Linked DNA regions of Homo sapiens. The protein of the gene in region 1 interacts with the protein of each later gene in a biochemical or structural test. Each region holds a gene or a part of one and is shown in the gene's direction. Other genes may lie near its edges. The genes, in order: XIRP2 and FLNC.

Region 1 (16,647 bases):
CAAGTCAGGCAACTCTACTAAGGTTGAGTTCAGATCTGGAGTCAACAGAAGACAGAGTGAAGCTCCATTGACTATCATTCCATTTACTAAAATACAAGTGTTATTTTAATTGTGAAACTGCCAGTCGAGTAAGGTGCAAAACAAATCACCGTGAAGTTGAATGCATTTTTTGTGTTCTGCTTGAGCAAAAATAGAACAACAGATGGCCATAAATTTAGGGAAGCTTAATGAATTGGCAAGTTATGACATAAAGTAAGTTGGAATTGGGTAACTTAAATGGCTATTAACAAAGGAGGAAAAATCTTCAAAAATGTTATTTTTTTTTGGAAAATAGAACACATTATAATTTAGATTATCTGTTTTCTTTTATCATTCTTTCATTGATACGTTTAGTTTAAGATCAGTTTCAGATAAGCATACTGCCCCTCAGCTCTACAATTTTACCTTGAAAAGGCACAACCGTATGTCCTTTGAAGCCAGAATCTTGGAAAGTTCAAGGTTTATAATAAACTTACCACAGACAAGGAGAGCCTCTAGGCAGAGAATATGTTCCCCAGAAAATAGGATTGAGTCATATAAATTCCTACTGAAGTTTGCTCTATATGCTGGAACAATTACAAAGTGTAGGAATTTTATAAGTAAATATGAGGTACATAGAGAAGGTGAGAGAGAATTTTGGGTGAATTTGAGAGATTTGTGGGTAGAAGGAGCTTAATCCCTCTTACCATATTTTTAAAATTTCATTTTCTCACATTAAGAATGTATTTATTGACGGGATTAATCCAATACATACATAGACTGGAAGAATGCCTAATAGTTATTCTATAAAATATTTTTGGCAAGTCACTGTACCTTCCTCCACAACCAACCAACAGCAGGTTTTTCACAGTGAGAATATACAGTATTATATTAATAAAAAATTATCAAAAACTGTTGGGGAATACTGATCTATTCCTGAAACTATGCCAAATAGATGTTAACCCTTTCAATGCAAAGAATTCACAGGTGAATCAGTAGAGAACATTCTGCTTTTTACATCAGGACTATATGTTAATGCATTTATTTTAAGCATAGACACTTTGCATTACTTAGAAATTAGTATGAGTGATTCAAATGCCTGAAAATTTACAAATCATTCTTCAAAATTATTTTTAAAATAAAAGCAATTAGGCTGCATCACAAAACAGTTCATGTGGTTCTAAGAGCAGCACAAAAATGTAAGGACTATGAGCTTCGATAAGACAAGAATTACAAATTGTTTATAGAATACTATAAAACAGAGGTTAGCTTGAATTTGTGAGAGGCAATTCAGTGACATAGCAAGGCTGGAATTCAAGTTATGGAAGGGTAAAGAGAAAATGCAAGCAAATAATTATGGACAATCAGCTACATTGCTCTTTCAATAAGCTTATCTTTTTTTTAAGAGAATGAGACATAAAAAGAGGGAAGATCATTAGTAAAATAAGATGTCACTCTATTTTAGATATGCCTAAGATGCCAAGAACACCCTCCTTGGTTGCAACTTGGGGAGGGAGTTTTTTTGCTCTTCATATACAACTTTCATTTTTTTCTTGAGGCCTGTATTTACACATATGCCAACTGTGTTAGGTGCAATAATTGTGAGTTTTGGTAACTATCTTCTGTATCACTTCTGAATGTAGCCACAGTATTTTATAGAATTTATAAAATTTACATTGGAACTATATGTTAATGCACTTATTTATAAATTTATAAAATACTGTGGTTACATTTTATAAATACTGTGGTTACATTCTTTTTATAAATACTGTGGTTACATTCTGAAGTGAAACTGAAGATATCCCAGCTCCAAAAAATGTTCTTGTCAGAATCTTAGACATGTACTTGACTATCCTCTAGAATTTTTAATAAACAAACATCAAAGTGTCATGTATACTCTCAATATTCTTCCCCCTACTAAGATATGGAGCCATTTATAATTTGATTTTAAATGCCCAAACCCCAAAACTTTGTACAACACAATAAGGATATTTATCAGATAATGACTTTCTAATTAAGTATATTGTTTAGGAAAAAAATTAAAATCTCTAATGAACCTACAAAAATAAAAAGAGTAGTTAAGCATAGCCGGAGAGTTTCCAAAAATCTTTTAACTTCTAAAATTAGAAGAAAATAGAATCCTTGCTTTGCTCAACCTACAGCATCAGTTGGATTCAACTGTATGTATTTTTTAAGCCTTATAACAACTTTTTCAATACACATGAGAATGAAAAGAGATTTTTAAAAATATTTCTCTCTTTGATGTCTGGTTTAAAAGACAAGAAAATATCAATAAAGTTTAAAAAACTAAGAATTGCTCAAAACTATAAGGATGCTGGAATACCTAGAAAATATACTAAATAGATTTATTGTATTTAGGCAAAGCTATTTTTAAGAAAAAATTTTAATTTATGTTATTCATTAAAAGATTCAAATAAAAACATGACCCTACAAATAAGCCATTTAAAATATATGTTTTTGACCTTTCACATTCATGGGTCTCTCTAAAATTAATACTATATAATTTAAGAGTTCCTCACCAAACTGTCTTCATGGCTTTGCAATCAGGACCAATAGAGTTGTGTTCTATTCTTGTCTGTCATCTGTTAATTTGTGTTCTAATTGGAAGTCAGTAATTTTTCTCTGAAACTCAGTGTTCTCATTTGAAAAATGGGAAGATAACATGTTTCCTTGAAAAAATTGTTGTGAGAATTTGTCTTAGACTGCCTAGGCTGCCGTAAGAAAATACCACAAACTGGGTGTCTTAAATCACAGAAATTTATTTTCTCACAATTCTGAAGGCTTAAGTCTGAGATCAAAGTGTCAGCTTGGATCAGTTTTTAATAAGGTCTCTCTTCCTGGCTTTCAGTGGTTGCCTTCTTGCTGTGTCCTCACATGGCCTTTCCTCTGTGTGCATGCACTTCCGGTGTCTCTTCCCGTTCTTACAAAGAAACCAGTCCTGTTGAATTAGGGCCCGATTTTGATGACCTCATTTATTCTCAGTTATCTCCTTAAAGGCACTCTTTCCAAGAACAGTCATATTGAGGGGTAGGGCTTCAACCTATGGATTCTAGGGCACACAATTTGGTCCACAACAGTTACTGAATCAGAATCTCTGATAATGGAACTTGGAAATCTACATTTTCAAAAACATCCTGAGAAATTCTTAGGCACACTGAAGTTTGAGATAGAAACTCTACAATTTATAAATGGATTTTGGGGACATATGATTTATATTTTAATGGGCAAAGAAAGTGATGACTTTCTTTCTTTCCCCTGTCCTTTATGGAGTAGCTCCAGTTACCAACAGGAAGAAATATGGTATCATAGAAAAAGTTCAAGATTTTCCGCCGGGTGTGGTGGCTCACGCCTGTAATCCCAGCACTTTGGGAGACCGAGGTGGGTGGATCACTTGAGATCAGGAGTTTGAGACCAGCCTAGCCAACATGGTGAAGCCCCATCTCTACTGAAAATACAAAAATTAGCTGGGCCTGGTGGCAGGCACCTGTAAACCCAGCTACAGCGGAGGCTGAGGCATAAGAATCGCTTGAACCTGGAAGGCAGAGGTTTTAGTGAGCTGAGGTCACGCCACTGCACTCTAGCCTGAGTGACAGAATGAGACTCTGTAAAAAAAAAAAAAAAAAAAAAAAAAGCTCAAGAGTTTGAAGATGTAGGGGGTTCTATCAGAGAAAAATTGCACTCGACAAGTTGAACAGGCAAGAAAGGATTTATTTAAGACATCACTTTAGGGAAGAGAGATTGAAAGCATCTCTGCTGAAACAAAAGTTGGTAGAGTTTTATAGTGGGGTGAACTGGTGGAAAAGTACTGGAGGACATTAGTGGGGAGGTGGTCAGTGTGACTAGGCCATCTGTGTTTACTAATTGACACTTACTGAAGTTGGGCTCTTACCTTCCCATAGAGACTGGGAGATGGGAATGCTATCTTTCTTGATTTTTTTAAAAAATATTTTAATATGACTACATAATAGTTGTATGTTATTTATGGGATACATGTGATGTTTTGACACAAGCCTGCAGTGTGTAATGACTGCATCAGGGTAGGTCCTTGAGAAAACTTTTCTGGGTTATAAAATTGGCAAGAAGCTGGGAGAAGATTCAGAGAGTCAAAAAATTTGCAATCGAAAGTTTTCTAAAGTAGATATTCTAAGGGAGTCAGGGGTCAATAGTAAGAAGTCTGTAAAGTATAGTCAAGCTGCAGAAAATATTAAGGCATTCTTAGCCATTTTGAATACTATCTCTGTCACTAATCCTGTGAACTTGAACGGGTCATTTTCCCTTTATGACCTGGACAATGTGAGATTTTGATTCAGGGCTTCCATTAAAATCACTAATGCTAAAATTCTGTTTCAAAGGCTGTTACTCAGCCATTAGTCACCGTGATTGCCTTACTGATTTTTAAAATATCAAAAATAATTTTGAAATTCTTTGTAAATGTCCTCCTTGTGACTCCGAAACTTTCCCAAGATATAGTCAATGCTTCCAGGATGCTGCTTTAATACTAGGATTATGTCCATCTGATACTAGTTGTTAAATATTCAGAATATCACTCTGGGCTATTGCAATCTACTTAACAGTTAGTTAGAAAGCAATCCTAGTAAAAACATGGCATTAGCAATAAAGACTTCAATAGGACTTCAATATATCTTATTTTCCTAAGAATCTGTACTTGCCACTGCAATTGCTGTATACTCCCAAACAATCTGGTATCAAATGTTTATTTTCCAAATTTTTTTAAAACCTTTTCCCTTATGTTCAGTTAAAGTCAATTGATTTTGGCCCCATGTAAAATATGCAGGAGATCACAAATGAATCAAAATATTAACTGTCTTTTAACATTTCTCAGTCTATTAAAGGAATAGAAATAAGCAATTTATAAAGTGCTGAGAGAATACATGACTAATTCTGGTTGTTGATGGTGAACAGGTTAGAACTATGATGACTAGAAGAATTAAAAGCATTTATATTAGGGTACATTTGTGGATGGTTTGCTTGAATAGAAAAAGAAAATTTAAGAGACCCATTAGAATTTTATTCAAATATTTAAAGATTGTTTGTTCATGTGGAAGAAGGATTAGACTTGTTTTATATGGCCTCAAGGCTTAGAACAGGCTCAAAGGGAAAATTACAGAGATATTTTGGGTTTAATGCAAGAAATATAATTTTTCAAATGAGAGCTTATTCAAAACCCTTGCTTTGGACTTCCACAACTCCTCTGCCAAGCCTTTCAACAATGAATTATAGTCAGAAATTAATTCACTGGAATGTCACACCAAAATATAAGGTCCTGGGGAATAAAAGACTGCATGGGATTTAATTCAATAACTAGTGACTTTTTTCCCAGTTGATTTTGGATCTCATGTGTGTCAAGTTGATGAATTAATAAATACAAGTGAGTCTCTTACAATAATGTGCCAACCCAGTCTGGAGGGCCCATCCACATGTGTATTGTAGGAGAAGTCTAAGCATCTAATAATTGTTGAGACTAGATGATTTAGCACAGCCCAACAGAAATAAGTGTTGTTAAGACGCAATTCCCTAAAAGGTCCTGGTTGACATTCAGTGCATTAGAATCTGAACTTCAGCAACCAGGTAGGTTTACCCAGATCAGATATGTATAACAACACCTGGAGAAAGTTTTTAATTTAAGTCCTAATAAAGATACCAAAGCCTAGCTGAGAATGAATAAACAAATATTCAAGAACAACTACTTGCTATGGATTTATTATGTAGTCAAATATAAATACTATAGTTAGGCTCCAGTATAAACTTGCTGTCTGTGTCTTCATGGGAATGGGCAAAATATCTCACCCCCATCAAATTGAATGGTTGGTGCACTTCTTTATTCTTTAGAGTGGGCCTAGTGCAACTTCTCAAGCCTACTCAGGTGGCAACTAAAAATTAGAGTTGGCACATGAGATGAAAATTATTTTCAAGCTCTTGTCTAAGGAAATACTTTATTGTTGATATAGTGTCTACTACCCTTTCTTTGAAATCTCACTATCTTCATCTGTCTCCCACTGTTACAAGCTTCTAGGATGGGATGATAATGTACTGAAATCAGGTTATTTATCATTATTTCCAAATACTTTGAATATCTGCTAAAGGGATTCCTCAAAATTCACTTTAAAATCAATTATTATTTTTACTAAGTGGTTTATTATTTTAATGCACACACAGATTTCTGGTTTTCTGCTTAGGAACTATACCAATGTTTCTTAAAAATGTCACTCTCTTATTTGTCCATGCTGTTTTCATTTTGTTAAACGAGTCATTTTGTTAAATGAGTCTTTGGAGATGAGAGGGATACATTAACCTTTTCTTGTGGGAAAAACATTTGGACTCAGAAGTAAAAATGGATCCCTCACTGGTCAGAAGCATTGACTCAAAGGCATGCCTCATTTCATGCCATTCATCTTCACTCTCCTGGGCCTCCAAACCCCAAATGTGCCAACAGTAGTCCCATCGCAACATTATGTGGGCATTACAGTTCTACACATCCTTTTCTGTTGGGGATCTTGCTTTTTTAAAAAAACAGAAGTAGCAAAATGATGCTGATTCTTACTTGGTTTCTCATAATTACCGATAATATTTTGTTTAAAATAGTGAGAATCAGCCCTGCCACAACTTGGTCTTGAATGCTCTCATCTTTATATCTAACCAGTCACCTTACATGTTCAATATTCCAGCTGAGTATCACTTCCAGATATGTTCAGCATAGTTATTCAATAGGAGTACTTAATAAAGACAAAATGTCACCCAAACTGTATTTTCTCTCTGTGTTATGTGGAATTTGCCTGACTTTGGTCAGGATATATTTTGTCTATCCAGTTCTCTGTGTCTACTGTTTTTGTCACTCTGTCGTGGAAGGAAATTAAGTTGATTTGACAGGATTTATTTTTCACAGTGCCAAGGAGATTTTACCCAGTAACTCATGATTTTCTAGGTGCTTGAAAATTGATTTTTTGATGATATGTTTCAGTAAGTTTTCAACTAAATACTGATGCTGACAGGTCTGTAATTTCTAAAGTTATCTGTTTTTTAATCTTCCCAGAGTAGAAACAAGAAACACACCAAGATAAGTACTGCATTTAGTCTTTTTAATATAGCAGAATGTCTAAGTCCTTTTTAAGTTCATAGATGTTGAGCTAATTGTTCTTTATTGACTTTGGCAAACTCTTGGAAAAATAATTAAGTCACCAGAATTTGCAGTTCAAAATGTGACCAGTTTATAACATTAGCCTTGTAGTCGAACCTTTATATCACACCCTGTATCGTCTCCAAATACCATATCATAACTGCCCTATATTTTAAGCTTTCAAACAAGATTTCTGAAACCTACAGTTTGAATACTGGCTAAGCACTGCAGTTATTTATATAATTTATGGTCATTTTTATATATGAAAATTCATTGATTAAAGTTGTAAGATTTAATTTATTATATTAAAATGCATTTCTGCTATTGAATTCCTTTATGCAAAAAAATCAACATTGTCTTTAGTAGTATATCACTGAACCCCTTATATATAAAAACCCCAGTTTGGAACAAAGAGCTATTAGATGACCAAATAAGAATCAAATTAGACTCTGCAATTAGAGTCTGCGAAGAGAAAGACTTTACTTATTTGAAATAGTATATAGCTTACTATATGTAAAATAAAATAAAATTATCTCAGAAGCTGTGGTCTCCTATAATTTGTAGAAGATGATAACTGATATCGCTAAGCACTTTTTGGTTGCAAATAACTATACTTAAATACTGCTAATAAAAGCTGACATCCGCTGATCACTTGCTTCATACCAAGCACTATCCTAAGTTCTTTATGAGCGTGATTTCATTTATTTTGTTCATCTCACAACAGTATAGTTAGAACATACTATTATCATCCCAATTTTCAAGTGAGGAAACTAATGTTTGGATATATTAAATAATGCATCTAATGTCATATACTAGTGTTTGAGTAGGAATTTGAAGCCATTTGGTTTGAATCTGGACTCTATGTTCATGATCATTATCCAAAATTCTCAGGTGTCCCAACCCCTCACAAATGACTTTGAATTAAATATTAGGTTTATTTTTATATGTATGGAACCTGACGCACAGTGATAATTAAAGTGTAGCTCAGCCATAGAGTGAGCCATTGGTCACTATGGGTCTTTGGGTTAAAACATACCTTTAAGAATATGTAGGAAAAAAATGATAATAGCTAACTCAGCAGCATTCATTAATTCATCTGCAGCAGATTAACTTGTTCCAAAATAATGAGATAATCTGATTCTGATGGAACATGGAGCAGACAAATTCTTCTAGAACCCGACCTGTTTCTATGTGGGTGTATCCAGGAAGTCAGGATTATTTGGAGAAATCTGGCAGGTCTCTAGGCAGACAAAAGGGAACATCTGGTAGGGACTGGGACATGTAGAAAAAAGGTAAGATTTTCCTAAGAAAAACCACTTCTTTCATAATTTTTTCTACACATACATGCTTCTCTTTGATAGTTTCTGACAGGACACTATTTTGCCTCTCTCTCCCTATTTCTTTTAAGTAATATACATTAAATTAGCATAGAATCACAGCATCATCAACAAATTCAGGCTAGCGCTTAGTGACAGACACTGCTGCTAGAATCTCTAGTTATTCATTTGTTTTTCTAACTAAGAAACAATTTAATCTGGGGCAGCAATGTGCCCAGAGAAAAAATAGTTAATCTCTCAGACTCAAAACACGTAAGTTTGGCTATATATTATATTTTTGGACACTGAAAGATAGTCAGGGACTTCTGGGGAAGAAATTTAACAAAAACAGCATCACCCAAAGAAAGCATCTGGGCAATTCTCCTTTCTTCCTTCGTTCCATTGAGTCAGGTCAGAGAGGACTCGCCAGGGACAAAGCCATGACCCTCAGGGACCCAAGGGCATGAGCCTGCAGCTGACAGCCCCATTCTGAATAAGCATTCAGGCACACAGACCAGGGTGGTTGTTGCAAACCCCTCAGCAGCTGCCTCCTGGCACAACCACCCACTAACATGTGATCTAGCAGACAAATGGAAGCTCTTCTTACCCCACTTCTTAGGCACTCCAACAAGGGTTCTGAATTCTAAAAACAGCAAAAAACATTCAAATTGTTACATATGAAATGCTTTCCTGCACCTTTCTATCTCAGAGATGACAGCTGTCCCTCCTCCACTCTCTCCCCACTCGCCCCCAGACACCTCCCTAAACAATTTCTGTGCCAAGATGAAGAGGATGTCCCAGGCCATGGGGCTTCTGGCCTTGAAGGGCTGCTGCAGTGGAGCCAGGGCACAGGGTAGGTGAGACACAGCAGAGGTTCTGGCCCAGGTCCCTGGCCTCTCCTCCTGCAGGTGGCGTTTATTTATTCAAGGGGAGCAACCATGTTCATTTTCCCAACAATGTGGCACCATATTTTGCTTTCCTCTCCACTTCCTTCTTCCTTGCAGCCTTCTCCCACTGTTTCCAGATGATCACCAGCCAGGCAAGGCCCACCTTGGCTTGCTCTGTCTCTCCTGCTAGTGCATTTTCTCCTTAAAAGCTCCTTTAGCCTGTCCAGATCCACTTGTTTGACCTTTCTGGTTGTCTATCCTACCTGCTTGGGGTTCTTGATGTTGATGAGTCCTTCCATGCCTTTGTGCTTTTGCTGGTAGTCATTTTCTTCATTTTCATTCTCTCATAAGTCTAGATTTCTTCCCCTTTTTGGGGTAAGCCCCATCTCCACCTTCTTCTCCTTGTTATTCTTCTCCATAGCAAGCAATCCTCAAGCAGGTATTGAATTAATGAATGGTGTTGTGTCTTCTCCAGTTCATTAATATTTCTGTTGATGTAGCTAAGTTTTATTTACTTTTTAGTTTTATTTTATTTTATTTTATTTGAGACAGAGTCTTGCTCTGTCACCCAGACTGGAGCATAGTGGTGTGATCTCGGCTCACTGCAACGTCCACCTCCCAGGTTCAAGCGATTCTCCTGCCTCAGCCTCCTGAGTAGCTGGTATTACAGGCACGTGCCACCATGCTGGCTATTTTTTTGTTTTTTAGTAGAGATGGGGTTTCACCGTGTTAGCCAGGATGGTCTCAATCTTCTGACCTCATGATCCTCCCACCTCAGCCTCCCAAACTGCTGGGATTACAGGCATGAGCCACCGTGCCTGGCCCCTAAGTTTTATTTTTTAACTGTGGGTTCATAGGCTTCGGGCATCAGAATCACCTCTTGGTGCTTTCTAAGAAGGCCAGTTCCCAGTTCAAATTCCAGACCTTGAAACTAGCTGAAACTCCCCGAGTGGGCCCTTAAGAATCTGCAGTGCTAAGGACATCTCAGATGATGTTGGTGCACAGAAAAGGTGAGAACCAGAGCATCTGAACAGACTGTAAATCCCTGAAGTCTGGATTTATGTTTTATAATTCTTTGACAGCTCTCAATAGTAAACTCTAAAAGTTTGTTTTTATTTTTATTATTCACACTGAGATTCATATTTGAAATTTCATGAGAGCAAATTTTGCATGCTTCTTTTATTACAGATGTATTCTGTATGTGGGTGTAGCAGAAGCTGATATGACAGATCATCAGCTTTGTCCTAAATAACAGGTATTGTCTGGTACGCAGCCTGCTTGGGATAATCCATGAAATATTTAACAAATTTCTTCTTTTGTTAAATACTAATTACCCATATCCTCCAGACAGTTTTCTGGGACTCTGAGATGGGTCCTTTTACTAAGGATGAGTTTATTTTTCTATAGAATTTGGAAACAAAAGCTGCTTCAATCAGCCTTTAACGAGTAAACTTGTAAGCTGAGTACCTAGCACAAACAGGGGTTATGGTTGAGGGTGCACTTCTCTCTTCCATGACTTACTAAATAATGCAGCTCCCAGAGCTGGCTATGAGAGATTTGGTGTCTTGTAGCTGCTATCTGGCGACGTATGTCCATCATGCTTGATGTTCATTAGTTAGATGAGATCAGTAAGTTAAAGAACTGTTAAATTTGTGTTTTCCTTTAATGGATACGTGACTGTGGTAGCTGAGTCACAGGACAGAAATTTGACAGAAAAAGACATGGCGGTAAGATAAGCTTATTGCAAATATACAACTTCATAAATTCTTCTAATAACTTGTCTTAGCAAGGTGCCTTAGCTGGTTCACTTAATAAATGTGAATGTGGAGATAAAAGAAAGAAAAATAAACAAATGCATTGTTCCTATCTCTTTTTTACATATATGAATTATGCATGCATCCTATTAGTGGGAAATTAAGTAATGTACTATGTTAGCTACATTTTTGGCAGAAAAATTAATTGTTCTGATAAACCTAGCATAGCTGGAGAAGTTAATGTAATTGACAATATATAATAATAAAGCTTTAGTTAAGTTTTTTCCTTAATATTGAAAATGCCATTTCTTTGAATCTCTTAACTAATTTCTTTCACATTCTTATCAGATAGATATTGAGCAACTATCTGCCAAAACTAATTAAAATTTCCCTCCCAGAAAAGATCAATTACTTGCTTTATTTGGAAAAACACTTTCAGTTGTTGTCTTTTGATTTTTTTTCTCTGAAAAAAAAATTGTTGTCTGATAATCTTTCTTAATCACAACAAAAATTCTGAAAGCTTGGTAACAGAAAATGTAACCAAAGCATGAAAATAAGTTAAATTACACTAATATTAGCATTATAAACATAATCCTTGGGATTCTTACCCTTGTCAGAAGGTGCTAGTTTGACATATTTACCTAACCTTAACTTGCTTTCTACAGTTGCAAGACTGAGGATTTCCTTGGCAGAGAATCTGGCTTAGTGACAACATAAATTTGGCAGGTTCTTGGAAACCTTTTGTTTTGTAGTTTGAACCTTCAGCTTGCCGATGCTGATATGCCTCACAATCTTCGTCTGTTCTGTCATCTTATTGGGATCATTAACTACTATTTTGAAGGATGCTAGAATTATATTGCAAAATATTTTCCCCCTTCAGACACATGTTGTAGTTTCCAAAGATGAGAAACCCACTAGAAAAATTTCTATCCAACAATACCTTTTTATTCCATTCTGATGTTTTTTATTCTCAAATTGGCACAGGCTTCATTCTGATTAACAAAAATATTTTAGAATTCTAGTTGGTATTGTACTTGTTGAATTATACCTGAAAAAAATATTTAAAGTCATGTTTAAAGGGCCTCAGAAAATGCTGTGATCTCCAAAGCACACTGGGCCGGAGTATGGTGGGTGTTGGGAAACAGAGCAGGTAGAAATCACAGAAACAATGGGAATGAAAAGAGACATGTGTTGATCTTTCATGAAAAAAGTCAATTGCTTTGTGACTGAAATTATTCTGTGAAACAGCTCTGGCATGCAATCCAGACCCTTTGCAGCCTGCTGTGTTTTCAGAATTTCAAAGCCAACTTTAAAAATTATTGCATAGAGTAAAACAAGGTTAAACACCCTCCTGCAGAGCTTCACCTGCCTGCATCTGAGGAGAGGCTTCCTGTGAATTTCAGTAAAAGGCCTTCCATCCAGGTCCCCACAGCAAATATGTTGAGGCTTCTCAGGTTCCCAGAGCTGAAGTTTGTGTTCTTTTCTGAAATAACCTTTGATGGGTTACTTGACATAGAATGCTACAATTTTGGAGCAATGAAAAATGACATCACTTGCAGTCAGCCTCAGAGATCATTTCATAGAAGATATATATATATATATATAACTTCTATGATATGTTATAATATATGTTTTATATATATATGTATGTGTGTATATATGTATATATGTGTATATATGTATATTTATGTGTATATATGTATATATGTGTATATGTGTATATTTATGTGTGTGTATATACATATATATATATGTATATACACACACACACACACACACACACACAACACCACCAGAGGGAAAAGAGAGGGATCGCATGCTGATTCTAGAGAGGGTTTGCGTGTGCTGTAATTTAAAACAGAGATGACTGCAGTAAACTGACTCTTGGGTTTAAATTACCTTCAGTGGTCATTCTCTGGTAGTGAAAAGTGAGAATATTGGAATTTGATGATATAAATATTAGAGTAACTGGTGGGAAATTTAAAAATATTCCAGAAAAATCCATAATTGTTTTAAAAGGCTTTTTCCTTCTGTGGAAGGAAGAAAACAGTTTAAACCAATGCTGATAAAGATGGCATTTATTTTCTCTTCAAAAATGTAGAAAAGCCAACTGCCTCAATCCCAATACACCAAAAAAATTATTTGCATTTTTAAAAAATACTTTCAGTTCTTGAACATATGCATATATTTTGAAGTCATGCAATACATTCCTTTCTGCGTATCTCTTTACCCAATTTTATATCATATACTGATTTCATTGGTTCTGCATTGTCTTTATATTTACCATTTCACATGGCTACATCATTTCATTGTGTGGCCAGACCATCATTTAGTAAAACATCCCCCTCACTTTGAAGCATTTCCTTTTTTACTATCTATAATGACTATTGAAACTTTGCAAGGCACATTTGCATATATTAAAGAATATTCTTCTATTAAATTATTATTTCTGGGCACATTTTCTTTTTTAGAAATAGAGATCAAAAGTGTCAGTGCCATTGCCAGTCTTGCCATGCTTAAAACTCTTCATTCACTATCATTCTGTAATAATCATAGATTTCTTAGATTTGAACATGTGTTTCAAATTGATACATAACTATGCTTTAAACTTGAAATGCTGTTAGTAGAGAAATGTACCAAAACATGTCCTCAAATACAAGAAACAAGAGTTATGACTTACAAGAAATCTTAGTAAATCAACCATATGAGACTATTTACAAAGCTTGTTTAAAATTAACTTTAGGGATTTTCAGTGGAACAGGGAAGCATTTGGTAGTTTTTCTTCTCCCCAAGACCTAGTCAAAGATAATTTTTCTCTGAGTGGATTGGTATGCTTGACAGGCAAAATTGTGGTCATTCTTTTTGTTTAATGCAATGGGCCACAAACCTAACATTATCATTATAATTAGACATAAACTCAAAGTTACAATAATAGAGGCCGGAGATAATTCTTACAATGACAGAGATCACAAAATATTAGAACACTTTTGTAAACACGCAGTCTTTAATACATGGACAACTTAGCTTTGACCAAGGGTTTCTTTCCTTCCCTTACTTACAAATCCTCTCTCTGAAGACCTCATACTCTTTTATACAAGATAGCAGATCACCTGGCAGGAACGTGAAATAAACTCTTTGGAATCCTAACGTGAATGTCAGCTCCATGTATTTACTAAATCTTGGCAGATTTCCTTTCTTGAGTCCATGTAAGCTATTATTCTCTTTATTAGTGTTTCTCAAAGTATAGATTTCAGGCCACCTTCCTTAAAATCACCTCAGGTACCTATTAAAAATGCACTAATTGAGTTGCTCTTAATATCTACTGAGTTGGAGTGAATCCCAGGGGAGCTATTGCTCCAAGTATTAATTCTAGTATGAGAAGAAAAAATATGTTTATACATATGATGGGTTATAGTGAAAACCTACTTTTTTCAGCATTGTGCCTTTCATTCTAATAATGTTAATTGAGCCCCAATTTTGTGCCAGGCAATGTGTTAGAAGCGAAGGATAAACTACTGAACAAAAACTGGGATGCACCTTGCCAACATAGAATTTTCAAGTTAGGGAACAGACATTAATAAAATAGCTACACAAACAAATGTGTAATTGTAGTTTTGACAATGTGAACAGAGAAGAACATATTTTGAGGGTGCTAAAATAGTGAGCTATATCATCTTTGGTAAGTCAGGAATGCTTCCCTGAGGCAGTCATGCCGTATGCTGAGAACAGAAGGATAAATAACGGATACCAGCAGAACAGGAGAGAGAAGAGTACTTACGCAGAGGGACAGCCTTTGCAAAGGTCCTGTGGCAGGAGAGAAAATAAGAAATGCAAGAGACTAAAAGGACACAGTGATTAAATCCTGGAGAGAGGATGAAGGAGGGGAATCATGGTTGAAAATCTCTGAACTGCCCAAGCCAACTCCTAACAAGGAAAAATGCAGAGTTTACTACTTTAATTAGAAGCAAAACATTTTACGTGCCATATGTGACACTGCAAAACATTTTTATTAAAATGTCCACATTGGTTGTATTATGCCCTGATGCTTCATTTCAGGTCATTGGTTAATCCTGTGGCTTCCATGGCAATTTGCAATTTTTTGTTTCATCCTACCTCAGTCTACCTTGCTACATCTCAGTCTCAATAACTCCACATACTGGTGCTTAACTTAGCAAAGACAACCACCTGATCTAAAGTTGTTTTTGAGGATTGCTCCCCCAGGTGGATAAATAAGGTGGTAGGTGGGTCCCACCATACCCAACAACAGGTCTCTGGATCCATGAACAGAAGTAAATTATATGTAAATCAAAGTTTGCTTTCCTCAATTAGAAAGAAGGGGATGCCATGTCCTGTTGGCAACGTTTGCAGCAGGGTCACTGCCTGCCACCTACGTAGTCCCTTTGGATATTCATTTCAGCTGAATCTTTTTAAAATTAAATGAGTTTTGGAATTGTATTTTAACATACACAGGCGTTACCCTCTGTTCATTCATACCCAGATTCTGACTTAGCATGCAATTCTCTGAATGCTGGGAAAGCCTTCTCATTTTATATACAAATGTTGCAGCTTGTTATGTGGTCTTTAAGAGATGCCAGCTAATTTTTAATAGAATACAAATACCAAAAAATTACTTGTTAAATGTAATAGTGATTAACAGATACTTTTTAAAAACTTGCCAAAGTCATGACTACTACATAGATATACTAAGAAGAAAACAGAGGCTTGCCTTTTACAATTAGTGGATTTTGCTTTATTTCTACATTTATCAAAATGTCTTTAATGGAAGACTGCATCTGTGGATGTTATGAGCAATTTATGCTAAAAGGTTCCCTGGACAAATAAGTTAAGGACAACTTTGAACTACAGTTATATGCCACATAACAACATTTCAGTTAATGGCAGACTGCATATACGGTGGTGGTCCCCTAAGAATATAACGGAGGAAAAACATCCCTATTGCCCAGTATTTACTATACCATGTTTTTATAATTGTTATTTTAGAGCATACTTTTTCTAAAAATATAAAAGATATATGTAAAAGATTGACTGCAAAACAGCCTCAGACAGGGTCTTCAGTGGGTGTTCCAGAAGAAGGCATTATTATCAGTGGAGATGACCGCTCCGTTTCATGTTCATGCCCCTGAAAACCTTCCAGTGGGACAAGATAGTGATATCGGAGGTGAAAGACAGTGATATTGATGATCCTGACCCTGTATAGGCCTAGGCCAATAATGTATATGTCTTAGTTTTTAATAAAAATTTTTAAAAAGTAAAAAAAAAAGAAAAAGTTTATAAAATAAAGATATAAAGAAAAAATTTTCTACAGTTGTACAATGTGTTTAGGATTTTAAGCTAAGTGTTATTAAGAAAGAGTCAAAAAGTTTTAAAAATTAAAAAGTTTATAAAGTAACAAAGCTATAGTAAGTTAAGGTTAATTTGTTATTGAAGAAAGAAAAATCTCTTTTATAAATTTAATGTCACCTATGTATATATAATGTTTATAAAGTCTACAGCAG
Region 2 (14,420 bases), on another chromosome or scaffold:
CCTGCAGGTGAGGCCAGCTCTCAGGACATGACTGCACAGGTGACCAGCCCATCGGGCAAGGTGGAAGCCGCAGAGATCGTCGAGGGCGAGGACAGCGCCTACAGCGTGCGCTTTGTGCCCCAGGAAATGGGGCCCCATACGGTCGCTGTCAAGTACCGTGGCCAGCACGTGCCCGGCAGCCCCTTTCAGTTCACTGTGGGGCCGCTGGGTGAAGGTGGTGCCCACAAGGTGCGGGCCGGAGGCACAGGGCTGGAGCGAGGTGTGGCCGGCGTGCCAGGTAAGGGGCAGGTGGCCAGGAGTGGGGATGAAGTCAGGGCAGCCAGTGTGAGGGGCGATGATGCTGAAGTCCACTACCTTGCCTGTCCCCAGCCGAGTTCAGCATCTGGACCCGGGAGGCTGGCGCTGGGGGCCTGTCCATTGCTGTGGAGGGTCCTAGCAAAGCGGAGATTGCATTTGAGGATCGCAAAGATGGCTCCTGCGGCGTCTCCTATGTCGTCCAGGAACCAGGTGGGCGTCCACACTGGCAGTGGGGCTGGGCCTGCCTGACCTTCCAGACTGGGTTTCTGCCCACTGGCCAGGCAGGAGATGCTTGGGGCCACAGAACTCCCCTCCCCGGAGCCCCCTGCTCTTCCTCTGCCCCGTCTCCCTCTACCCCACACCCTCAGAAACATGTGTCTGCCTCCAGATCTGAGCGCTGACCACAGAGCCTTTCCTGGGATAAGGCCAGGGTGGGGAGGCTCCCGCCCTGCCAACCTCCATCCCGGAACCTGTGCTGACTGGTCTCTCTCCCCAGGTGACTATGAGGTCTCCATCAAGTTCAATGATGAGCACATCCCAGACAGCCCCTTTGTGGTGCCTGTGGCCTCCCTCTCGGATGACGCTCGCCGTCTCACTGTCACCAGCCTCCAGGTTTGTGCCCAGGGTGGGGGTGGAGGGTTTCTGCTATCTGAGAGATGGGCAGGAGTTGAGGACAGCAGGTCCATGGGGCCAGGGATTTAGCAGTGACCTTGGAAGGGCCAGTTAGGAGTCCCTTCTCATAAGGCACGAGGCAGGGCCCTTGGGGACGGTGGGCTCCCACCCTGGGGGCTTGCCCGTGCACTCAGGCATGCCACGCCTCGTTCTGCCTTTCTCAGGGTGTGTCTGCCTGTCCTACTGCCACCTGCCATTTCTTGTTACAGTTTGTTCCACCTTCTGTTGTAAGAATGCTAGATGACAACATTTATAAGAATGAGAGCATAAAATCTATACAAACTAAGAGTAAACCAGTTTGCACAGAGGGTGTGAGAGGCTCCTCTAAAGGGAATGCCTATGGGCTGCAGAGCCTGGGCTGCATCCTCTTCAGGCCGCTGGGGGCCTGGCTTGCTTTCTCTTGCTGCTGACTTCTAGAGATGTGGTGTGTTCCTTTCATTCTGTCACAGCGGACATGTGCAAGGAAGGCTTTCAGCAAGTCACACTGAAACATGCAAACCAGGGGGCCAGGTGTCCAGGGGACACATTGTAAAGGAGCTTCTGCATAAGGCGCACAGAATGGGCTTCACCCCACCTCCTTCTCCCACGCGCCTCCTGGCTGCCCCTCAGGGTGGTCACATTGGCCCATCCAGAGTCCTTGTGCATCTCCTCCTCCCACTCCTGAACTGGGCTCCCCGATGCAGGCTCCAATCCCTCCCCCAGAGCCCTTCTGTGCTTCTTCTGGTCCTCCCTGTTGGTCCACCTTCTCCAGGAAGCTCTCCCAGGCCAGGCCAGTGAAACTCAGCTTCCTACCTCAGAGCTCTCTGGCACCCCCAGCCCACACAGCCCATCAGGCACTTGCCCTCCGCCCTCAGCCTGCTTCACACAGAGTGGGGCCCTTCCTTCCTCAGCCAGGACAGGGCACATCGTCTGTCATCTCCCACACACCAAGCACAGCTAGGATAGCAGGTGCACACATAGGGTTGCATACCGGACCCTGGCTCCTCCTGCTCCCAGGCTGGGCTGGCAGGCAGGGGCCAGGCTGGGCATGGGGTGGCAGCAGCCTTTGGGCTGGGCTTACAGTGAGCACCGTGTGGGGCTTCAGAGAAGACTGCTCCAGCCCCGGCCTCCCAGGAGTCTGAGCATCCTCCGTGGCCTTTGCAGGAGACGGGGCTCAAGGTGAACCAGCCAGCGTCCTTTGCCGTGCAGCTGAACGGTGCCCGGGGCGTGATTGATGCCCGGGTGCACACACCCTCGGGGGCTGTGGAGGAGTGCTACGTCTCTGAGCTGGACAGTGGTGAGCTGGCCCTGCCCCTGCCAACTCCCTTCCGGGCTGGGGCCTTCTGGGGAGGGGAAGGATGGAGGCTAAGCCACCAACCCTTTATCCACAGACAAGCACACCATCCGCTTCATCCCCCACGAGAATGGCGTCCACTCCATCGATGTCAAGTTCAACGGTGCCCACATCCCTGGAAGTCCCTTCAAGATCCGCGTTGGGGAGCAGAGCCAGGCTGGGGACCCAGGCTTGGTGTCAGCCTACGGTCCTGGGCTCGAGGGAGGCACTACCGGTGAGTGCCTGGAGCTGGGGAACAGGGTGACTTCTGGGGGTGCTTGGCCACTAGTCTGGTGCTGCTTTGCTCCAGAGGTAGGGGCCCTGCTTCCTAAGCCAGGAGTCCCCACAGAGGCTGTCCAGGGAGCTGGGGCCCAGTCCCTCTTGGGCCACAAGCCCTTCCTGCCCTCAGCCTTGCTACCTCTGGCCCCCAGGTGTGTCATCAGAGTTCATCGTGAACACCCTGAATGCCGGCTCGGGGGCCTTGTCTGTCACCATTGATGGCCCCTCCAAGGTGCAGCTGGACTGTCGGGAGTGTCCTGAGGGCCATGTGGTCACTTATACTCCCATGGCCCCTGGCAACTACCTCATTGCCATCAAGTACGGTGGCCCCCAGCACATCGTGGGCAGCCCCTTCAAGGCCAAGGTCACTGGTGAGTGCCAGTTTGGGGGAGGTCCACCCAGCCTGCAGCCCAGCCCAGCCTGGAGGGCTCCGGTGGCCACGCACATCTAGGCCATAGTCTGCCCCCAGACATCATGGTCAGTTTACCAGGGCTAGAGGTGGGCCTGGCTCTACACAGTACACGTTCTGTGGAGTCGGGCATGATCACGTAAAAATGCCATTCTTCCTCTCCATCGTGGCCCCTCACTCCTTCAGCTCTGGCCTGCGCTGGCTCCTCAGGCTCTAGCACCACTTTCTTCCCTCCTGGCTTCCCATATTCCTCCGCTCCAAGAAGACACAGTCGGTATTGAGCAAGCTTCCCCTCTTGAGGCTGTCTGTAGGATGAGTTGGGTGGGTGTTCCTTTGTAAAGTGGCTCTTACCCTGTGAGTTAGCCTGAGTTCCCAGACAAAGCCTGCAAGGATGAGGGACGCAGCATCTGAGGCCCCAGCCCTAGGGTGGAGCACCAGTTGGAGCTGGCAGCTCAGGGCCCTGGCTGGGAATGAGGCTGTGCTCCTAGAGTGGCCCTTGGAGGAATTTGAGGGGGAGCCTCAAATGCAGGCAGTGAGTCCCACAGGGTGGCAGTGCTGGCCGAGGGTCCCCTGCCTGGGGAAGAACAGGAAGCCCTTCTGACTAGGTTTGTGCCCCCTCCACCCACCCCTCAGGTCCGAGGCTGTCCGGAGGCCACAGCCTTCACGAAACATCCACGGTTCTGGTGGAGACTGTGACCAAGTCCTCCTCAAGCCGGGGCTCCAGCTACAGCTCCATCCCCAAGTTCTCCTCAGATGCCAGCAAGGTGGTGACTCGGGGCCCTGGGCTGTCCCAGGCCTTCGTGGGCCAGAAGAACTCCTTCACCGTGGACTGCAGCAAAGCAGGCAGGTGGCGGGGGGAGGGCGTCTCCCGGGGTGTGAGCAAGAAGCCGTCAGGGAGCAGGGTGTGGGTCACAGTAGGGGACTCCCTGGTGTGAGCCTGTCCCTCTGCCTCCCTCTCCAGGCACCAACATGATGATGGTGGGCGTGCACGGCCCCAAGACCCCCTGTGAGGAGGTGTACGTGAAGCACATGGGGAACCGGGTGTACAATGTCACCTACACTGTCAAGGAGAAAGGGGACTACATCCTCATTGTCAAGTGGGGTGACGAAAGTGTCCCTGGAAGCCCCTTCAAAGTCAAGGTCCCTTGAATCCCAAAAGTGCCTCCCCAGCCTCAGCCCCCACCTCCAGCCACACACACATTACACACACACACACACACACACAAATGTGCCACACCCAGACACGCACAGAATCAGACACTACAAACACCTGCCTTGGGGGTGAAGTGAAGGCCCAGCCTCCCCACCCCACCGCGCCCCAGGGGTTGGAGGACCTTGTCTGTGTCAGGACAGTGTCCCTCCCTGGGAATGTGACATGAGGGCCGACTGGGGCCAGGCTCAGGGGCAGAGGCTGGGACACAAGGGGCTGGCGAGGGCTGCGAGGCCAGGGAAGCCCTGAGTTTCTGGCGGGGCTGAGCAGTGGGGGAGCATTGTGTTGTGGGTGTCTGTGTGTGAGGTCACCCTCAAACTGCACCGCCGGCCAGATACCCTCCTGACCCCGAGGACTTGGTCTGGTCTCTCTGGTGGCTACAACCCCAGAGTTTTAAGGACTTGGAAAGGAAAGCACAATCAGAGAAGAAAACAGCCCCCGAACCAGCAGGAGTGGCCTGGCACATGGACCGGCCTGAGCGATGTGCACTCCACCCAAGCCAGGCTCCCAGGGGGCCTGATTTCTCTCTCACTGTCTCTTTTTTTAAAATGGTTGCACGGCTCTGCCCCATGGGGGGCCTTTTTTACACACTGCGAGGCCCAGCTTTCTAGGGGACTTTTGCACATGTCATGCAGCTCAGCTGGGAGCTGCTTAGGTGGAAAACTCCAAATAAAGTGCGGCTGTCGCAGAGGGTTGGCTGTTCCTTGGGGGTGTGCTCTGTGTGGCTGGCTGCCCTCTGGCCTGCCACACGAAAAACCGGGCCCTGGGGAGGCAGAGGCGGCCTGGCTGTTCCCTGGAAGATTGACCCAGTCGAGGGAAAGGTCCTGGGGCAGAAGTGAGGTCTGGGATGTTGGCAGAGTGCTTGAAAGAACCGGGGGTGGGGGCTCGGGGATGTGGGAAGGGGTCCCAGCGGGAGGGTTCGTGGACAGTACAGGGTGTGGATACTGTGTTCTACAGTACTGTCCCAGGACCCCTGGGAGGCCAGTTTCAGTTCAGCTTGACCTCAAGGATGTTTTTCAAATTAAGACTTTAAAACAGTGAGCACTGACTCAAACAGGAATATTCCTCAACCAGCAGGCAGGCAGAACCACCTGCAGACTCAGCACCTTCCCCCTAGTCAGTTCCTGAATCAACTTGGCCTGTTTCATGCCCCTTTCCAGCACTAAGCTTGCACAGGGCCTCCCTCCTGAACTCCTGCAACAGCCCTGCCCTGGCCAGCTCCCTCCAACCTCCCCTCCATGCTGCAGCTTGGCGGGGGGGTCACTTTAAAGATAGTATATGCCCCTCTCTGGTTTAGGGCCATCTGTGACTCCCTCCTGCTCCAGAGTAAAGTCTCCTCTTCCTGACAAGGTCTCCAGGGCCACCCAGGTTCAGACAGCAGCCTCCCCAGCCATATGAGTTGGGCAGCAGGCCCACTCTCCATTGTGCCCTCCACCTCCAACCCCCCTTCATTACCTCTGGGCACCCATGCTGTAATTTGGGCCCTTGCCCGGAAACACCTTTGCCTCCCCACCCTCTTCATCTTCCTGGCCAACAGGAAGTTTTCCTGGACCCCTCCCTACCCCTCCTGGATCAGTGCCCCCAGCTCCCAAACTGCCCTGGGACACATCTCTAGTTGCAGTTACGACCCTGAGCTGTGGCCATGTATCCACGGCTCCCCACCAGATGGAGCTCCCTGGCCCTGGGTGTGAATGAGTGAGTGAATGGGTATGAATGAATAAATGAGCAGCTGAGTAGCTGCAGCAGGGAAAAGAAGTCTTTCATTCAACTGATCCCACAATCTAGACCCACCTGGGCATTTCAGCACATGGTGGTGGGCTTGGCAGAAAAACCCACGAGTCCCCAACTCCTAATCCCTGACCTCCCCACCTCTCTCACCAGGCTCTGTGCTTCCTCCCTCTTCCCTCACACCCTCCCACACACCCATCCTCACTCTCTGCCCCCCTCACCCTCACCCTCACCCCTAGATGTGCTAATTTCCCCCTCAGCTTCGGCTGCCTCCACCTGTGTGTGGCTGATAAGCTCACAGACCTCCAGCCTGCCTGCTTCCAGCCAGCCACAGTGTGGCCCTGGGTGCTGAGCCTTACAGGCCCTTCCTCATTAATCCTCATAACAGCCCTATGAGGTGGGGCTACTACCATCTGAAGAAACCAAGGCCCTGGGAATTTCAGTGATGAGTCTGAAACCGTACCTTTAAGTAGTGGGGCACAGATTGAAACCCAGGTGTGCCCGAATCCCAAGCTTATCACACATACAATCGCTAGACCAGACCACGGGCACGTCTCAAGCACTCCAAACTCACAAACCCCATGCCAGACACCGGGAGTGCTGATTTGTTAAAAGGGAGGAGGAAAGAGTGGCTCCTTCCCCTTCAGCCTGCTCATCTTACAGAGGTCACTTTCTTGGCAATGTTACTCCCATCCATGTGCTGCACAGGCCAGAAACCTGGAAATCACCCAGGTCTCTCTCTCTACCTCACTCCCCAAACACATCCACTCTGAAACCAGTTTTGTCCTAAATATCTAAATATCTCTCGGCTCTACCTACTTCTCTGCGTTTCCCATTATCACCACCTGAGTCCTGGCCACCATTATCTCTCACAGTGGCCTCCCAATTTGGTTTCTCCTCCCTCAGTTTCGCCTCTGCACACAGCACAGTCAACAGTGAGTGACAGCTCTAAAACGTAAGTTTGGCGATAGCACTCTCTTACTTGAAATCCCTCAGCAGCTTCAGGATAACTGTCCTCAGGATAACTTCCAGATCTTTTTTTTTTTTTTTTTTTTTTTTTAGACAGAGTCTCACTCTGTCACCTAGGCTGGAGTGCAGTGGCGCCATCTCAGCTCACTGCAACCTCCCTTGCCCGGGTTCAAGCAATTGTCCTGCCTCAGCCTCCCGAGTAGCTGGGACTACAGGCACACACCACCTCACTGGGCTAATTTTTTTTGTATTTTTAGTGGAGATGGGATTTCACCATGTTGGCCAGACTGGTCTCAAACTCCTGACTTCAGGTGATCTACCCGCCTCAGCCTCCCAAAGTGCTGGGATTACAGGCGTGAGCCACCGCGCCCAGCCTGCAGATCCTTTTTTTTTTTTTTTAGACAGGGTCTCGCTCTGCTGCTCAGGTTTAAGTGCAGTGCCGTGATCATAGCTCACTGTAACCTTGAACTCCTGAGTAAGCCCTGCTGCCTCAGCTTCTCGAGTACCTGGAACTATAAGTGTGCACCACCACGCCTGGCTAATTTTTTTTTTTTTTTTTTTTTTTTTTTTTTGAGACAGAGTCTCGCTCTGTCACCCAGGCTGGAGTGCAATGGCACAATCTCGGCTCACTGCAACCTCCGCTTCCCGGGTTGAAGCAATTCTCCTGCCTCAGCCTCTCGAGTAGCTGGGACTACAGGCGCCCACAACCACGCCCGGCTAATTTTTTGTGTTTTTAGTAGAGACGGGTTTTCGCCATGTTGGCCAGGCTGGTCTCAAACTCCTGACCTCAGGTGATCCACCTGCCTCAGCCTCCCAAAGTGCTGGGATTACAGGTGTGGCGTGAGCCACCATGCCTGGCCTTACCAATTATTTAACTTTCCTTGAAGGCCCTACGCTCTCTAGTCAGTACGCCTTTGCACATGCTGTTCCTCTGCCTAGAACACCGTCTTGTCCTCACTTCTATCCCCTTCATCCTGCAGGTCCTTCAGGTCTCAGCTTAGATCTGAAGCAAGCTTCTTGGGGAAGGGTTCTTTGGACGCCCCCTCTCTCCATGGGTTAGTTACCATGGATGTGTGCTTCCATATACTTTTCACATTCTAACCATTAACACACAGCTTTGTAGTCGCCTGTTCCCTTGACTTTCCACCTCACTAGGCAGTATCATCATTAACTTTTGCATTCCTTTAACTGAACAAACGTGTGTTACTTGTTAACTATGTGTCATAGTTACACACATACATACACGATAAAGACCCAGACCCTGCCCTTGAGATGAGTAACTGCGTCTCTTCTCTGGGGTCTCGGCGTCTAACAGCGTCAGGTCCAAAGCGCTTGTTGAACGAATGAACCAAGGAACGAGTGAATGAACGAATGAATGCCCGCGAAGGACGTGGTGCCGCGCGGTCTTCTGGGAATCGTAGTCCCCTGGTTCGGGCCTGTCTTTACGGCGCAGGCGTATTCACATGGAGGCCGTGTTGCTGTTAATGCGCATGTCCCGGAATGCGGCTGGGAGGACTGCGCATGCTCGAAGGGTGGGGGTTGAGGCCGACGGGGCGCCGTACGGCGGAGGCGGGGTTTCAGTGGCTTCTGGTGCTCTAGGGTGAGCTCTGCCCGGCTGCAGGGATGGCGGGGAGGGGTAAGCTCATCGCAGTGATCGGAGACGAGGACACGGTGACTGGTTTCCTGCTGGGCGGCATAGGGGAGCTTAACAAGAACCGCCATCCCAATTTCCTGGTGGTGGAGAAGGATACAACCATCAATGAGATCGAAGACACTTTCCGGTACGGTACCGCGCGAGGCCTGAACGGGCCCTTCTGCTGCTCGGTGGAGTGCGGGGCGAGGCTGGAGGCTGCCCGGACGGGGGTGAGGGGACGATCCTGAAAGTCCTTCCGCCCTTCCGGAGCGGAGGCCTCCGCGCCCCAAGTCCCCGTTTGGGGCTCGGTGGGACAGAAGCTGTATCAGGTCCACGAGCCCCCCCACCTCACATGATCGTGTGTCATGAAAGAAGGGGAACAGAGCTCGTGACAGCCTAGACAGTGGGCTTGGACTTTGTTCTGCTTTCTCCTCCTTTAGAGGCTCACCATCGTCCCGTAAGGCAGGGATGATTTTTGTCCTACTCACAGGTGAGAAAACTAAAGCTCGGAGAGGGTAAGGCACACACTAAAGTTACGAGTCGGCAGAGGCAGAGCTAGAATTTGAACCCAATCTCAACCCTTTCTGCCTCCGGTAAGCCAGGTACACACTCTTGGCAGGTCTCCTCAGGCGGCCTCGGAATTTCCTTGTAGTCTTGAGCACAGTAGGCAGAAATGTCGGGACTGTGAGAGCCTTCTGCTAAGACCTTGCACTCAAGCCCTCACTGCCTGCCTTAGGTCAGAGTGTGGGTGCAGGCATGCTTTTAATCCACCAGGGGTCCTGGTGACTGGAATTAAGGATACCAGCCTCCTATTTTATTCCTCACCCCTTCTCCAGGGCCCCTGTACCAAGTCTCAGGAATAAACCACTCACCTGTTTCCCCCAAACAGTCCAGCCCAGGGCTGCTGGCTGAGACTGGTTCCTGCTGCCTGGTGTATTAGGTAGTCCCTGACCTGGGAGGCTGTTATCTGCCATTCTCTAAGCTGTCTGGTAAAGTGACCCAAGTTATCATGGGAGAAGGACAAATTTTACTTCAAGAATTTTTTATGTTTCCAACCAAAAGGGACCTCAGAGATCAAATCTAACCCAGTGACTGGCAGGGGGTGGGTGCTCAGTAAGTAATTTTTAATCAGTAAATAAACGAATGAGTCTGGGTGCAGTGGCTCACGCCTGTAATCCCAACAGTTTTGGAGGCCGAGGCGGGTGGATCACCTGAGCTCGGGAGTTTGAGACTAGCCTGACCAATATGGTGAAACCCCATTTCTACTAAAAATACAAAAATTAGCCAGGCGTGGTGGCGGGTGCCTGTAATCCCAAGAAATCAGGAGGCTGAGGAAGGAGAATTGTTTGAACCTGGGAGGTGGAGACTGCAGTGAGCCGAGATCCACCACTGCACTCCAGCCTGGGTGACAGAGGGAGACCCTGTCTCAAAAAAATAAAAATAAAATAAACAAATGAATGGGTGGGTGACCACAGGAGAGAAGGAGCACAAGGCCAGGTTCTTTTTGTGCAGAAAGTGTGATTCCTTCATCAAGGTGTCCTCTTCCTAGCTTGTGATCTTAGTTCATGCCAAACTTTCCCTCTGACCCCTCCACCACCCTCATCAGGATAGACCTTGAGGCCTTCAGTGGTCTCATCAGCCCTATTTTTAAATAATTTGTTTTCTTTTTAAAAGTTAATGTGTCTTTTTTTTTTTTTTTTTCTGAGACAGGGTCTCACTCCTGTCACCCAGGCTGGATTGCAGTGGCGTGATCGCAGCTCACTGCGGCCTCGACTTCCCAGGCTCAAGTGATTCTCCCACCTCAGCTTCCTAAATAGCTAGGACTACAGCTTCCCAAGTAGCTGGCACATGCCGCCACATCCAGCCATTTTTTTTTTGTGTGTATATATATAGATAGATAGATAGATCCGCCACATCCAGCCATTTTTTTGTGTGTGTATATATAGATAGAGAGAGAGAGAGAGAGAGAGGGAGATGGGGGTCTCACTATGTGGCCCATTCTGGTCTCAAACTCCTGGGTTCAAGCAATCCACCTGCCTCGGCCTCCCAAAGTGCTGGGATTACAGGCGTGAGCCATCACAGCTGGCCTTCAGTATCTGCACATAAAAAGGGATCTGCATACATATAATCTTATCCTTCCCCTTTCTGACACATCACTGCATATTGAATACACCAGTGTGCACCCTAATCAATCTTCATTACCAGTTCACTTGGAAGCCTTCCGGGCAGTGTTGTAGAAGCCAACCCTAATCAGCGTGACCCTCCGCTTTGGGATGAAATTGATTCTAGGTAGGGTTGACAGAGGGTTGAGCGTGGCAGCCTTTCCCCTTGTCCTCTGTGCCCTCTGGGTCATGCTCATTCCCCTCCACAGCCCAGCCCAACAACTCGGAGAGGGCTGCCTGGGTAGGAGAGACGGCAGCCCCCAGAGCTGTCCTGGACTCCCTTCTCATCTCTCCCCACAGGCAATTTCTAAACCGGGATGACATTGGCATCATCCTCATCAACCAGTACATCGCAGAGATGGTGCGGCATGCCCTGGACGCCCACCAGCAGTCCATCCCCGCTGTCCTGGAGATCCCCTCCAAGGAGCACCCATATGACGCCGCCAAGGACTCCATCCTGCGCAGGGCCAGGGGCATGTTCACTGCCGAAGACCTGCGCTAGGGGACTCCTCATAGCCCTCAGCCCTTCCCTCGTTTCCAGGCCTCTCCCCAGGCTTGCCATCAGCCTTCTTTACTTTTTGAGCCTCTGATTTCCAATTCCCTGCTCCTTCCCACTCCATTAAGAGGCTAGGTGAGGCGCTTCTAGGTTGCTGGGGCTCTGCTGGTTAAGGAACAGGAAGCCTGACCATCTCCCTCCACTACCTCTTCCCTGTGCTGTTACACAGTGTCATTGTTGATGTTAAATTAAAGTCATATTCTTGCTTCTCTCCAGATGGGTTGGGTGCTGGAAAGGACATGTGTGGGGTGAGGCCATGGGGCAGATTCGGTTGGCAAGGATGGAAAAGGTGCTGCCAAAGACAGGCATAGAAGAGGTGGCCCAGGAGGATTGTGCCGGGAGGCAGAACTCAAGGACTGGTCCTTGGATCAGAGAAGACCAGCTCTGGTCTGGGGAGGAATGGGAGGAGGCTTGAGCCCAGCTCCTGCTTCCCCCACCTTGCTCGGCATTGGGCTGGGAAGGGGGCCAGATCCAAAGGACAGAAGCAGAAAGCACACGAAACCTGGGAGTCTGTGATGCCAGATCCCGCGAGGGCCCTGCGGGAGTTTTGGGGGGAGCAGGGCTCTTAACCAGTGGGCCCTGGCCTCAGGCTGCCTCAGGAAGCCAGGCTCATGGGGTCTGCTGGGGGCATGGCAAGTAGAACCCTGGCCCTGTGTGAGGTGAGGCATGGTTGCCAGGTGACTGTGCCTGGGCAGCCACTCGCCGTCAGAAGCACTCTGCTTGCTGTGCTCACCCCTCAGCTGTGGCCACCCTGGTGCCACTCCTTCCCTGGCCACCATGTCACGGCAGCTCAACATAGACGCGTTACGGCAGAACTTCTGGAAGGAGGAATATCTGAGGGAAAAGATGTTGCGCTGTGAATGGTACCGCAAGTATGGGTCGATGGTGAAGGCCAAGCAGAAGGCTAAGGCTGCAGCCCGCCTGCCCCTCAAACTGCCCACCCTGCACCCCAAAGCCCCACTCTCACCCCCACCCGCCCCCAAGTCAGCCCCTTCCAAGGTGCCCAGCCCTGTCCCAGAGGCGCCTTTTCAGTCGGAAATGTACCCGGTACCACCTATCACCCGAGCCCTGCTGTATGAAGGCATCTCCCACGACTTCCAGGGGCGGTACCGCTACCTCAACACTCGAAAACTGGACATGCCAGAGACGCGATACCTCTTCCCCATCACCACCAGCTTCACGTATGGCTGGCAGCTGGGTGAGCCCAACCTCTTGGAAATCACCTCAAAAACAGAGCACTAGCCATGTGCTAGGGAGTGGGCATCCTGGTGAAGGGTCCAGACTATAAACAGAGCAAGGAGATGGCCAAGAAGTGTCGACACGTTCCACAGAACTAGGGAGTGGCGGTGGGCAGGGAGGCAGCGGCCACGTGCTGCTATTTATTGGATTGTCAGGAAAGGCCTTTCTGAGGACCCGAGGCTGAGAGCCAGATGATAAGGATGGGTTTGGATTTTATTTGTTGTGCAGGGAAGCTGATGGAGGGTTCTAAGCAGATTTCAAGAGTGACACTGGTGAACCTTTTAAAAAGTCACCCTGACCTGTATGTAGGCAGTGGCTTTTTCAGGGGAAATGGTAGAATCTGGCACATGAGTTGGGCATCTGTTTGGTTATCCTGTGGTAGTGGCCTGAGGGATCAGCAATAGAGCTGAAATCAATTCAGGATGTTTTGGGGGAAGACTCGGTGGAACTCACCCATGGATAGAATGTGAGAATAAGGGGAAGAGAGATCAATCACCCAGGTGTTTGTTTAGCTAAAGCTGCAGTGACAGGGAAGACTGGGAGAGGTCAGGGCTGGAGCGTGCATGAACAGGTCCTATTTAGCCATGTGTGTTTGGCTATGTTATGCTTGAAGTGTCTGTAGGGTGGCTGTGTCTATAAGTCTGGATTGAAGTCAGAGCTGAAGATGCAAATTCGGAGGTCATTGGAATATAGGTGCTTTTTTTTTTTCTTTTTCTTTTTGAAACAGTCTGACTCTGTCACCCAGGCTGGAATGCAGTGGCACGATCTTGGCTCACTGCAACCTCTGCCTCCCAGGTTCAAGAGATTCTTCTGCCTCAGCCTCCCGAGTAGCTGGGACTGCAGGCGTGTGTCACCACGCCCAGCTAATTTTTGTTTTTTTAGTAGAGACAGGGTTTCACCATATTGGCCAGGCTGGTCTCGAACTGCTGACCTCGTAATCTGCCTGTCTCGGCCTCCCAAAGTTCTGGGATTACAGGCATGAGCCACCGGCTGGCCTATAGGTGCTATTTAAATCCATGAGATCTCCTAGGGAGCTCAAGTTGCTGGAATCTGATGGGAGTGGGGGCAGGAGGGCTGAGCCAGAGCGGGTAGGGGATGTCATTGGCAGGAAGCCTGTCCATCTCGGCTGAGTCTTTTTTCTGTGAGGTTGAGTCAAGGCCATCAGCGGGGAGGGAGCTGAGCTGAGGCAGTGGAGTAACTAGAGATGAAGAGGAAAGGTGTGGAACAGGCATGTGCCAGGCAGGGCTGCTGGGCGATGTTGCTGCACGTCCCATTGCTGTCTGTGCTCATGAATGTCAAGTGAGACTCCTCAGCCCTGTACCCTTCTCCAGCTGCTTGAGTGTCTTGCAGAAAAGGTGGATGGTTGGGGATTGACTCAGTTGAGATTTTGCCCCCAAACATCCCTTTCCCCCAGGCCCCTAAAGGGGAAGTCAGGGAAATAACTTTCTAACAAAAGCAGGAGGCGAGCCCTAGAAGCGGGGAGCAGGAGGCCGAAGGAAATCTCATCTCTCCACAGTCTGTCCCTGTGACAAGCAGGCTAGGGTGGCCCCCCTCCCTGCAGGTAGAGGATCCTGAAGCTAGGGTAATGATGGCAGATGGCTGCTGTATCCTGGCATCCAGCCAGCTCCCAGTATTTGCCCATAGCTCCCATTCCTCCAAAGCACTTTCTATTTCTTCCCACAAAGTGGCTACTCCACTGACGGATTCCTAGGGCTGTGCAGACAGACAGGGCTCCCATGCTCTGCGTGTCCCTCCCTCAGGAACCCATGCTTGGCCTCTGACATCTTTTCCCAGGCCCCCCAGTGAAGCAAGAACTGGTCTCCTGCAAGATGTGCCGCATTGAGTCATTCTTCCGCAAGAACGGGGCCTTCGCACTGCTTGATCCCCGAGACCTGGCCCTCTGACCGTGGGCCAGGTGTGGGCTTAGGGGAGGGAAGAAGAAATAACAGGCCTC

Evidence for each region.
Region 2: the proteins of XIRP2 (region 1) and FLNC form a complex in vitro, tested with the Homo sapiens proteins (one study listed by BioGRID).

What each region holds. Positions count from the first base shown.
Region 1 is NC_000002.12:166,880,092-166,896,738, forward strand, and holds the start of XIRP2 (xin actin-binding repeat-containing protein 2), read left to right. Parts: upstream 1-8,388; 5' UTR 8,389-8,466; intron 8,467-16,647.
Region 2 is NC_000007.14:128,854,406-128,868,825, forward strand, and holds the end of FLNC (filamin-C), read left to right. Parts: intron 1-7; coding exon 8-277; intron 278-369; coding exon 370-507; intron 508-793; coding exon 794-909; intron 910-2,112; coding exon 2,113-2,245; intron 2,246-2,339; coding exon 2,340-2,516; intron 2,517-2,712; coding exon 2,713-2,931; intron 2,932-3,602; coding exon 3,603-3,812; intron 3,813-3,930; coding exon 3,931-4,118; 3' UTR 4,119-4,867; downstream 4,868-14,420. Other genes in the region: ATP6V1F (V-type proton ATPase subunit F), read left to right, coding at 8,500-8,657, 10,715-10,798, 10,972-11,173; protein SPMIP1, read left to right, coding at 12,005-12,425, 14,261-14,370.